Regions from separate parts of the Homo sapiens genome. Here all the other regions are reported to be linked to region 2. The links are microRNA targets in miRTarBase. Many come from high-throughput screens and were not tested one by one. Region 2 holds a microRNA gene; each other region holds the end of a gene's coding sequence.
Evidence for each region. The annotated mature microRNA hsa-miR-4661-3p reads CAGGAUCCACAGAGCUAGUCCA and lies in region 2 at 2,002-2,023, opposite strand. An mRNA with a match to its seed (bases 2 to 7 or 8) in the 3' UTR can be bound and repressed. Matches are read on the target gene's strand: a 7mer-m8 pairs with bases 2 to 8, a 7mer-A1 pairs with bases 2 to 7 and ends in A, and an 8mer does both.

Region 1 (4,247 bases), not on the chromosome of region 2:
TGAGGTCAGGAGTTGGAGACTAGCCTGGCCAACAGGGTGAAACCCCCGTCTCTACTAAAAATACAAAAATCAGCTGGCCGTGGTGGCAGGCCTCTGTGAATTCCAGTTACAGTGGGGAGTGAAGCAGGAGAATCCCTTGAACCTGGGAGATAGAGTGTGCAGTGAGCTGAGATCACGCCACTGCACTCCAGCCTGGGCGACGGAGTAAGTCTTTGTCTCAAACAGCATCTCTCGTCTACAGTGATGCTCTTGTCTCCTTGGGTTTCTCTACCAGTCTGATCACATCTACTCTATCTCCCAGGAATGCCTCAATATTTCTGGTGAACCACTGACACGTTTTCTTATTTTCCTCTACTCTTGAGAATTGACCCTTGAAAACATTTTCTTCCCAGTTCAATGGAATGTTGAGTGGGGCACGGGATCTATCTGCCATCTTGCTCCAATCATCTGGTTTTAGATATTTTATGTATATTTGTCACTATATAAGTGTAATTTTTCTCAATTTGGTTTTCTAAATCGTTAATATTGGTATGTAGAAAAAACCTATCTATATATATATAATATTTTGTTACCTGTCTGGGTGCAGCTTCCCCTGCATTTTGGCACAAGACTCAATATGTTTTATTCTCCAAAAGGAAAGTGACAGGCTGGGCGCGGTGGCTCACGCCAGTAATCCCAGCACTTTAGGAGACTGAGGCGGGTGGATCACCTGAGGTCAGGGGTTCAAGACCAGCCTGGCCAAGATGGTGAACCCCTTTCTCTACTAAAAATACAATAAAATAAAAAAAATTAGCAAGGCATTGGTGGTGCGCACCTGTAGTCCCAGCTACTAGGGCAGCTGAGGCGGGAGGATCATTTGAACTCGGGAGGCGGAGATTGCAGTGAGTCGAGATCGCACCACTGCACTCCAGCCCGGGCAACAGAGACTCTATCTCTAAATAAAAAAGATAAAGAAAAAAAGAAAATTCACTTCACAGGCAATAGAGAGTTATAAAAGGATACTTTATGGATGATTTCATAGGGGAGAATGATGGAAAGAAAGGATATAAACATATATATATATATAACAGAGCTGAGCAATTCACTGGAACAATCACCAGAACTGCCTTTTTCTCCAAAAATAGTACCCCTAAGCTATACTACTACTGGTTCTTCTAGTCCTTCCCTCTATTCCACATCCTCAAATTGTCCATTTTCTTATTGGGATAATTTTCCTCTGCCCAGATCTGGGTCCTCCACAACACTTAACACTGTCTTCGAGTGTTTGAATGCCCATTGCTTTAGCTCAGATTCCCAAGGAAACAGGCTTTGGGCCATACAGGACACCTCTAGACAGACTATACTGAGAAACAATGCCTGGAATGGTACATGGGGAGAGGAGAGGAGAGGAGAGGGAATTACGTACCTGACTCTCACTCCTGGTTCCTTTTCTTATTGGTCAAAATTTACCCCACAGGTGCGAACTCCCCTACACTTCTAGATTGCATCAACTGCCCCTTTGACAGCTGTCTAGGAAGCCAGATCCCACACTTTGAAGTGTAGTGTTTCATACAATCCAAAAGTGGTAGCAGAGGCCAGGCGTGGTGGCTCACGCCTGTAATCCCAGCACTGTGGGAGGCCAAGGCAGGCGGATCATGAGGTCAGGAGATCGAGACCATCCTGGCCAGCATGGTGAAACCCCGTCTCTACTAAAAATACAGAAATTAGCTGGGCATGATGGTGCACGCCTGTAATCCCAGCTACTCGGGAGGCTGAGGAAGGAGAATCGCTGGACCCTGGGCGGCAGAGGTTGCAATGAGCTGAGATTGCACCATTGCACTCCAGCCTGGGCAACAGAGGGCGATTCCACCTCAAAAACAAACAAACAAAAACAAAACAAAAAATAAAAAGTGGTAGCAGAAATCAGAAAGTCCAGATATGTAGGTAATTGGCCTTGTTGTACAGCAGCAGCCAAGGGTGAACACTAAATGCTCCCAGGCAAGTCCTAAGTTCATCGAGTAACTGGAGTACCCATCTGTGTTAGTTAATTGCCTTTATCTGAAGGAAAAATAAAACTCATATCTCTATGACAAGCAGGTGCTTACGGCTTGGAGCAAGGCACCTAAGTTAAACTCCCCTGGTGACAGGGAGACAAAGACATCATCTTCCTCAACGTTCACCTTTCAAAGAGATGCTCCATGGCCCTGAAGAAAGACATTCCTGGTGGCGGTGTTTGGTAGCTCACACCTGTAATCCCAACACTTTGGGAGGCTGAGGCTGGAGGATCACTTGAGGCCTGGAGTTCAAGTTCAAGACATTCCTGGGTTATAGGGTGGCCAGAGGCTTACATATCAAAGGAAGAATTTATAAATACAAATTTTCTCAAGGAAATGCTCTAAGGAAAGTGAAATGGGGAAGGTCTCTTCTTGCTCTTTTGGCAACAGGAAAATCTCAATTTTATGTTTAGTTACCCTTACAATTTCCCCCTTTTGTTATTCTTTTATAGTAACAGTACAATTTTCTAGTTATCTCCACTGCTTTGAAATGAGGCTCATTGGCACTGGAGAAGCTGGTTCATTCACACAGTCAGCTTCACATTCCCTCTTTTGATCAAGATCTTTCTTTGAAAACCTCACAAACCTGAGGTGATCCACCCACCTCAGCCTCCCAAACTGCTGGGATTACAGGCGCAAGCCACTGTGCCCGGCCCTATAACCAATGTTTTTAATTGTATCCCTCTAGAGAGAGTGAGCAGAGGTGTCTGTGTATGTCTGTATTGTGCTTTGTGTTTTACAGAACATTAACTCTTTATAAAGCATATATTTCTAACCTAGGAAAATATCAAATGGAAAAGGGATGGGAATACCTTTGATATGTACATTCAGCAGAACTATGTGCTGCCGGGTACAGTTGCATGAACATATACACATCTCCACTTCCTGTGGGAGGAAATTTTAAGAAGAAAATTTTCTTTAGGAATCAGTGCTCCCCCAGGCCTTATTTACAATGTCTGGCTTACTGTCAACCTGTGAGTCTGTCCACCAACCCTACAGGACCTCATATCCCTCCCTTCTCAAATGCCTACCTCTTCCCTTCCCTTCTCCCCCACCATCAGAAAACAGGCATAGATATATGCAGCCATCAGCTTCTCAAACTTGATTTTATTGTAATCATCACCGTTGGTGGTGAGGATTTGTCCAATTTGGTTTCTCCATGTTTAATTAGTCTTCCTCACCCTCCTCTGACGATCCTTCAGATGAGTCTGGGTCTTCTTCCTCCATCAAAGATCCTTCAGATGAGTCTAGGTCTTCATCCTCTTGTGAAGATCCTTCAGATAACCCTAGGTCTTCATCCTCCTGTGAAGATCCTTCAGGTAATTGTAGGTCTTCATCCTGCTTTGAAGATTCTGCAGATGAGTCTAGGTCTTCGTCCTCCTGTGAGGATCCTTCGTCCTCCTCCTCTTGGACTGGATTGATGGAGTTCTCTCAGGACTGGTCATTCTCGAGTTGATTTGAATGTATTTTCTTAGTCTTCCTGTAGCACAACACTAATACTGTTGAATATTCTGATGTTTTCATCTTTTTCAAACTCGGTTCGAGGACTAAGTCCCTGTTTGGTGTCTCCTGCATCTGTTAAGAAAACAGGGAGAGGCCAGAAAGACATTATTTTGGGTGAATAGGATAGAGACTGGATAGCAAGGGGGGCTTTATGAGAAGGAATGCAGGTTGAGGAAGGGGTTCGATCCAGAGAAGAACAAGGTTGACTCACAGGGTAGGGATCTATGGGGAAGAAGAGGAGCATGGGTAGGGTCATCTGTTAGTCCAAACTGCACCATTTTGTAAGTTCTTTGCTATTTTGCAGACCTTGGTCAAAGTGAAACATCCCATGGGGGTTCAGGCCGTGAGAAACATCCTGCCTAACCACCTGTCCACAAGGCAGACAAAGGCCCAACTAAAGAAACATCCCTATCATATCTTGCTTGGCAAAGTTCTAAGGAACACCACAACGATATTCCACCAGAAAAAGGGCCAAACCACCTGATCATAAGAACATCTTATCAATATCCTGCTGGGCAGCAAGCCATGCTGCCCAGATCCCTCCCACCCATACCTGTAAGTACCCCAGGCTGTAAGCGGTGGTGGGATCTGGCATTAAGCTGGTCCCCCACTTCCACAAGCGTCTGCAGTATTCCTGTGTTGCTGTTTGAGCTGCCCCCTCTCTGTGTGTCTTTCTTTCACCCTCGCCTTCACTTCAAAACCTAACAATCT
Region 2 (4,247 bases):
AACACAATCACTGTGGTAGGCACCAGGGTTAAACCAGGGACTATCCCATTTACTGGAGATGCCTTCTTCTCACAGCATCCTGTGCAGCTTCACATCTGCTTATCACAAGAATGCAATCATTCTCTCTTTCTTGTCTGAAAGCCTTGGTTTACAAAACACACACATAAAAAAAAATACTTATTAAGCACCTACTATATGCTACCTTTGTTGAACACCCACTGTACTAAGCACTGTTTATGCATTACCTCATGATCCCTAGCCACAGTTCTGTGTGATGGGTATTATTATTATTGCCATTTGACAGGATGAGGAAGCTTAGCCTTGAAGAGGGAAGTAACAGGACACAGGTGGCAAGTGGTAGGGCTGGACATCAAACCTAACTTGTCAGATTCCAATCCTTATTATCCCACTTCTCCTGGGAACATGTGAGTTTCTCAAGGATCAGGGTTCTGTATTCCCAGCCCTGGCAAATAATCTGACACACAGTTAGAAAAAAATAAATAAGTTTCAGTGGATAAATAAATGAGGACAGAAGAAGGATCTTTAACATAAATGTCTTAAGTTCAGCTGAAGTAAATGGGGAATAACTAGGTTGGAAAAGCATAGGAAACATAGCCCAGACTCTCTGGTTAAGGATCAGGAATAACATGTATGAGTTCCCTGCCCATATCCTCTACTTGGCAGCTTTCTGAAATTGGCAAAATTACTTGGTTTCTCCTTGCCTTGGATTTCTTACTGGTGTCATGGGGTTATTTTGGACATTAATTGAGGTATTCCAGGTGACATATTTAGCAGAGCACCAGATGCACACTCAGTACCAAATAAATTCTGGCTGTTGTTGCTTGTATTAGGTTGTAGTTTCTGAAAGAGAGACATGAAATAAGAGTAGCAGCACATCAGATGGTTTTGAGAGGGAATCTGTCAGAGCACAATTAAACATGGCAACTTGTCTAAGGTGTTCAGAACATCACCAGTGGAAAGCAGGATGTTTTGAAAACTGTTTCCGAGTAATCTGACACGCTGTACTCATTAAATGTCTCTTGAATATAACAATCCATTCCAGATGATAATGTGAACAATTCACAGATAGCTACATATGTGATCAAGATTACATATTTACTCCCATCTTGAGGACCAACATACATTTCTATCCTCATTTTCCCACCGATGAGCTGTCTTTTCTCTTTGTATTTAAGGTCCAGCTGGTTTTAACTTTCAAATTCCTGCTCAACCACTATTTTAATGTTCTCTTTGGCTATCTGTTTAGTTCTAGATTCTGGGCTTTTAAAAATTTTAACATTAGCCTTCCTTGGCAGCACCTTTGCCAGATTTTTCTTATGATACATAGAGATGTAATATGTTGACAAACTAATTAAAGGAGGAGCTGGTATTCAAATCCAGATCTGATTTATCATTCTGTAGAAATAAAATTTTATCAGGTATTGTCCGAAGCTCTCTCTCTATAAAGGTGAACAAAACCAAAATGGTTCTTAAATTCCTTGAGCTTAGTATTCAGTGGTAGAGACAGACACCAACACCAAGTAAATCGATTACTACAAATTTTGCTAAATGCCATGAAGACTTCAAAGCTTTCTGATATAAACACCAACTCAACTTTGACAAAGACATTTCCATAGCAAGAGCATCAAGGTATTGAAAAACTGAACAACTTAAATCACTGTTTCTTATTCATAGAGAACTTTTATAGGCAACCACTACACTAAAGCCCAATATACATGTAACTGAGATGAGAATGATTTCTCTGATTAGATTCTTCCACTTTTATTTTTTTGTCTTAAGCACACATGGTTATGTCTAGTAAGACATAATTTGTACATGACTGGATCAAGAGGAAAACACTTCTAGCCTTCCTTTTAGTCTCCCAATTCACATGCAACATTTTACAATACTTGGCAGTGTCAAAAACTCTGGTAAAGGACATTGTGAGAAAAATTGTAGTAGCTCTACACCACAACCACAGCTGATTTAGGTCTTTTACTCTGGACTAGCTCTGTGGATCCTGTCTATCAGGCTGTCTGTCAGGATCCACAGAGCTAGTTCAGAGTAAATACCTGATATCAGGTGACGTGAATACCTGGCATCAGGTGATGTGTAAATACCTGACATCAGGTGATGTGAACTCTGATGACTGTTCCTGGATTTCATTCTACAGGATTATAAATGAACTACGTAAAGCAGCTGTTGTAAAATCTGTACTCTGCTTCTTGGAAAGTAAACAGGCCAGTAACGTGAGCCTCCATGTCCTAAGCGTGGGTTAGTATAGCTAAAATAACCTACATATTTTCTGGCTCATATATTGTGTTATCCACTGTAACTCTTGATAAAATCTCTCTACTTGGTATGAAGGATAGCTTTATTTATCCATTCATTCATTCATTCATATTTTTTATAATTCGAATCTATTCTTCTATTTTTGCCCTGAAAAGTAATAATACAATCTTTCTAGGTAGGCTACATTCTTGGCTTGTGTCAATATCAAATTTGTTTTGGACAAGATGCATCCTGAAAGGCAAAAAACAGTAACAGATAAGGCCAATGGAAAAAAATATTAAAAATCGGCAACTCTAGGTAAAGGGTATACAAATGTTCATTGTATTATTCATTCAAGTTATGTGTTGTTTTCCAATTTCTCAAACTAAAAAGTTGGTGGAAAAAAAGTTGTCCTTGTTGAACCTCATGATGAACAACACATATAGTGAAGTTCATGAAAGAAAGTTTCACAATTACAGTTTTGAGAAAGATAATGTATCTCTGAACCTAAGTAGTGATGATCTCATCCAGGAGTTAGAAATGTAAGCTTATGAAACAACTAATAATGCTAGTAAGAATACATTATCAGCATTCACATGCACTCATCGATTGTCCCTGGGGAGGCCATGGGCTGTGAAAGGCGAAAGGCCTAATCCAGGCTCTGGAGATCCTTGGGAACATAGCATACTTGTATGCAGGAGCCTTTGTTCTGCTTACAGTGGAGTAAAGTGAAAGACTTTCAGCATAGGGTCCAAGAAGCAGACTGACAGAGCAAACTCTACAGTGTGCCTGAAGGCAGCCATAGTAAGAATTCTCCCCAGCATAGAGGCCATATTAAGGTGTTTGTCATCTTCCAGTGCTCCACAGTGGATTTACTCCTTCACCAACACCTCCTTTTCTTTTTTCACTATTAGCTGTACTACACCTTTGTCACTAACAATTCATTAATTCATATATTCAACCAATGAATATTCATTCAACTTTTTTTATATTCAACTTTTTGTTATGTGTGAGAAACCACATAGGCCTTGCTTAGTAAGGTGTGTAAGACACAACCATTTCCCTGTGGTACTGGGACAGCCCTAAACAGGGAGAGCAGAGATTCTCAGCCCTGACTGCACATGAAAATCAACTAGAAATCTTTTTTTTTTTTTTTTTTTTGAGATGGAGTCTTTCTCTGTTGCCCAGGCTGGAGTGCAGTGGCACGATCTCGGCTCACTGCAAGCTGCTCCTCCTGGGTTCACACCATTTTCCTGCCTCAGCATCCCAAGTAGCTGGGACTATAGGTGCCCGCCACCACACCCGGCTAATTTTTTGTATTTTTTTTAGTAGAGACGGGGTTTCACTGTGTTAGCCAGGATGGTCTCGATCTCCTGACCTCGTGATCTGCCCGCCTCAGCCTCCGAAAGTGCTGGGATTACAGGCGTGAGCCACCGTGCCCGGCTAGAAATCTTCATAAAAATGTGGATGCTCAGGATCCTACTGCTACAGACTCTGATTTAGTAGTTCTAGGGTAGGATAATCTGTATTTTTTAAAAGATTCTTTGGTAAATTTGGTGAGTGGCTAGTGATAAGATACACTGAGGCTGGGCGCAGTGGCTTACGCTTGTAATCCCAGCACTTTGGGAGGCCAAGGCAGGCAGATCACCTGAGATCAGGAGTTCGAGACAAGCCTGGCCAACATGGTAAAACCCCATCTCTACTAAAAATACACACACAAAAAAAAGCCAGGTGTGGTGGTGGCCACCTGTAATCCCAGCTACTTGAGAGGCCGAGGCAGGAGAATTGCTTGAACACAGGAGATGGAGGTTGCAGTGAACCAAGATCACCACCACTGCACTTTAGGCTGGGTGACAGAGCCAGACTTTGTCTCGGAAAGAAAAAAAAAAAAAGATAGGTATAAGCATATTCACAACTCAGATCCTTTATTGGCACAAAGACTACTGGAGCATAATGATACCCTAAATCACTTGAAC
Region 3 (4,247 bases), not on the chromosome of region 2:
TGTCACAGCCATGATATCTCAGTTATGGAAATTCTATTTAGTGGATGAACCAGGAAAATGAGAATTTGGAGGGATAACAGGCTAACTCTCAACTAAAATCAGGAAGCAAAATGTTGTCCCAAACTTTTTAGGATTTAAAAATCATCTTGCTAGCTCTTGGTGTACTCAAGGTAAAGAATTCCATCTTGGTAATTCTTGTACTTCTTACTAGAGAAAATACTTGGTAGAGCACTTTACATAGTGGATCCACACGAAGTGTTTACAAAATAGAATTATTTGCTGTATGAGTGGCAGCCTAGGTACATCAATGTGGCAGCCACATTTTCTTCATTAGAGGTTCTTTAAAGACCTTTCCCACAACATTCTGTGATTTCAAATTATCCCGTTGCTCATATCACAAATACAAGATATACAGGCCAACTCATTTCTTTATTTCTCTCATTTAAAGTACAAACAAAACCCTTATACTTTTTTGAGCAGTGAAATGTATGCTGCAAATACTAAGAAAGTATATTGGGTAACAAACTGTAACACTGTTTGGTAAACATTAAGATCTAAAGAATAATTCTGCTCCAGGCCCTGAAGATAGCCATCATTTAGGACTTCACTTATCCTAGGCAAGGTAGGCTATTACCTTGGAACTGTCCCATGGTTCGGAAGACTGCTGGTTCTCCTTCTTTTAAAGTTTTAAGCATTATTTGCAGTTTATTTGAGGCCTCCTGACTAGCTGTGATCTATGGCATTTTTAATCAGTATGTTCAACTGTAATTAGTTTGGGCATGTAGGAGTTCCTTCTTTGGGGAGCTGATTTCACTATAAACAATATTTTATTAAACATTTTTTAAATAAAGGAGTGTCCACTATAGAGGATCCTCCCTCCCTTCTTGCATTTGTCACGAAGAAAATGTACTGCTAAATCACATACGAATTTTAACAAAGTATATAACCCAAATACATCAATAAGGACTTTTGTCATGTCCCAAACAAGGGTCTCCAGCTCTATTAAGTGAAGAAAATTTTCCCAAAATTCAAAATTTTCAAACATCCTCAAACCTATTTAAAAGATCATTACACTGAACAAATTTTCCACTAGAACATGAAAGTGTTCACTGAAAAAAAGCTTTCCAAGTAGACTGTATTCATATATAGCAGCTCTCTATATACCTATATAATGATATATACGTGTGTGTATATATATCATTAAACATTTCTTGTGTCTATAGGAAAGCTACTAACTTTTTAAAAATTTCAGCATATAAATAGCTATTAAGACAATTCACAAACTCAAACTATTCAACTGCATCTCAAAACATCAAAAGAGAGACAGTTGCACAAAATCTCAATGGAAATAACTGAAAACAGCAAAGAAACCAAAAATAACCCCTAAAATTAAAAGTATACACATACACACACAATTGATAATGTAAAGCAACTTGATAATAACTGCAGGACACTCTACAAACTAATTATTAACCGTTCAATTATACTTTCATTCTAGAGTAAAAACAATAGTTTAAATCTCTTTGGTCCACACATTAGTACATTTAATGTATCCAAGTTATTTTCTTGTTAATTTTGGATTATGAATCATGCTCCATATTACTTTACCATAACTTTCTTAAATCATAAAATAAACATATGTTAAAATAAGTATTCATTCTGGAGATCTGAAACAATTTCCACATGCTATTGGTAATTCCTCTGGAAGAATACGAATGCTTTAAATTATTGACAGAATAGCCAAAGTAAAAGAAGAACACAATTCAAGTCTGGCAGAAAAGAAAAAATCAGATTGACTTGGAAAAGTTATGCCTAAATTTAATTTGTAAAAACATCAGGAATATAAAGAACACATGAAAACAATTTCAGGCCTGTACATAATAAAAATAATCAATTTTAAGATTTACTTCAAAGATCCATGCATAGTTGCTTATTATTTTTTTAAAACAAATTTCCAAGCCAGTGTTAGTAAATCTCCCAAATTGGCTTCCATACTGAGAAAAGTACTGCCTCTCCAACTTCTCATTGGTAAGTTGTGGATATACTCTGCTTCTGGATAGAGAAAAAGTGGTATGGGTAACAAAGTTCTTAAATTTGAATGTAATATAACAAAGGCCTACTTTTATAGCAAATTGGATTAAACAGCAAGGCTACCAGGTTATTTTTGGATTATCCTTAACTTCATATTCTCTGCAATGTCTCCTTTGAGTTAGCACATTATAATTGTATCTGGTGCCAAAAAAAATCTCATTAGGAGACCAGTTCAACCCTACTTCCTATACTCTTACAATTACGTATTGCCAGAACCTCTTAAAATGTTTTATATAAAGGACATTTCCACTTTTGCTATATGCCCTCACAGATTCTTCTACTAAACTTAAATCATAACTTCATATCATAAATCAAGAACTGAACAACTGAATTACTCTAATACACGCTCAGTACTGCATTGATATGCTGAGACTAATTGCCAAATTTTAAAATTATCTACTATATTCCCCAATTTTTACTTAGCAAAATTATGATGTTGCCACATGTCCAAAGTAAAATAGTTCATTACTCTTCCTATATAACTTACTTGTTACTTATTTCTACAAATGAGGTCTTTATTTCCAGAGCCTAATTTAGGCCAGTCTCTAAAAACAGTTAATACTCCAGAATGAAAGACTGTTTATGTTTTGTCAAAAATCAAGATATATGCAACACGTAATACAATCCCACTGAGATACTAGTTATAAAGATGTTTTGTCCATGAGATACAAGGCAAAAACTTTCTTTAGAAGGGTCAAAGAATGCAACATGCATTTCAGACTTTTTTCTTACAAAAATTTTTAAGAAAATCTTCAAATTACATTTTTATGACGCACAAACTACAATCAATGTGTATGACCCTTCAAGTTTCTGAATTTGTATAAACAGAATATGGATGCATGAGAGAAGCTATTAAAAGGGTGTTACTTAAGTTGGTGAAAAGTATGCACCCTATAGAGCTACTCTGAGTTCTTAAAACAGTTGAGCTAGTCTTCAGTTAAGAAGACTTATCTTCCACATCAATTAAATAACAATAATACCTAAACATATTGAAGCCCTAAATCCCAGAAACGCGCAACATTAAAAACCAAATAATTTCTCTCATATTAAACAATTCAGTATTTAGCACTCATACGGGATTTAGTGTTACCGAACAAAAATCTTAGTACATTACCTGAATTCATGTCAAATATGTTCACAGCACTCAGCTACATCTACACTTGCAAATTGTCACATGATCAATGTTAACAAAAAGAAAAGAGTTTGGCACATATATCAATACCTCAAAACGTCCCTGTAACTTAACATAACACTGTTAGGAACGATGATTTCAACACCAATGTTAACCTGATAGGCAGCTAAACAAGGTGCTTTTTCTTGTAACTTTACATAGTGTCTTAATGCACCTTGCCTGAGACAGAGGCACATAAGGTGCAGTGCGGTAGTGCAATCACTTGAACACCAGAGGGCAATCCTTCCACACAGCTCAAGGTCTTCCTTATGCTTTGACCTGCTCAGTCCACATTCTTGCACAATTTCATTTCCACTTGTTAACAATGCCGTTTTCAGGGAATCTGTACATCTGTTTCCTTATGTGAAGTAAGACATTCCCACAGAAACCTCAAAGTGTAGCGAGGATCCTTGAAAAGGAGATGATTAATGTCAGTACAGTCTGTCCAACGCCCCATACCAGCGCTTCCAAAGGGGCCATGTTCTTCCCAGCTACTCTGTAAATGCCCGCTACTGCTGCACCTAAGGAGAAACGGGAGAAAAATGAAGGGATACAGTCACTCGTTTTATAACACACTGCATGCTGCACCTTAAGAGCTCTTTTCATTTCATCAAAACATAAGTCATCATTTTTTTCTCATTTTATCCACTTTCTATGAAAAAGTTTCCCTGTGATTGGTGAAAGTTACAACTTACCATAATACACTTAGCCACTTATTTGAAAAACAGACTTTTCTATTCAACCAAAAGATATATATTTATGGTATATGCTGCATACTTGATAGCAAATATGTTCATAAACAATGAATAATTCATTATTGCAACCTCTCACCTGGGCATTCAATTAACTAGACCTCTTTAGCATTTTTGTAAACATACAGTATAACATACTGATAATTACAAGTGATAATGCAGAAAAATAACATAATTTAATGTAATTTCTAAATTATTAATAAATATTTTAATATTAAAGGTATCTTTTCTGA

Region 1: the mRNA of SPANXN5 is a reported target of hsa-miR-4661-3p. Seed matches in the 3' UTR shown: 7mer-m8 at 3,419-3,425.
Region 3: miRTarBase lists TMEM170B as a target of hsa-miR-4661-3p. Seed matches in the 3' UTR shown: 7mer-m8 at 867-873.

Annotation. Positions count from the first base shown.
Region 1 is chrX:52,793,024-52,797,270 of GRCh38, forward strand. It overlaps SPANXN5 (SPANX family member N5), which reads right to left. Exons shown (of 2, transcript NM_001009616.4): 2 at 3,121-3,608. The coding sequence ends at 3,465. Among named protein-coding and RNA genes, the nearest start is that of SPANXN5, 2.3 kb to the right of the region's middle.
Region 2 is chr8:91,203,307-91,207,553 of GRCh38, reverse strand. It overlaps MIR4661 (microRNA 4661), which reads right to left and starts at 2,069; the gene lies at 1,995-2,069. The region is part of intron 7 of LRRC69 (leucine rich repeat containing 69); the gene reads right to left.
Region 3 is chr6:11,574,967-11,579,213 of GRCh38, reverse strand. It overlaps TMEM170B (transmembrane protein 170B), which reads right to left. Exons shown (of 3, transcript NM_001100829.3): 3 at 1-3,783. The coding sequence ends at 3,653. Among named protein-coding and RNA genes, the nearest start is that of TMEM170B, 39 kb to the right of the region's middle.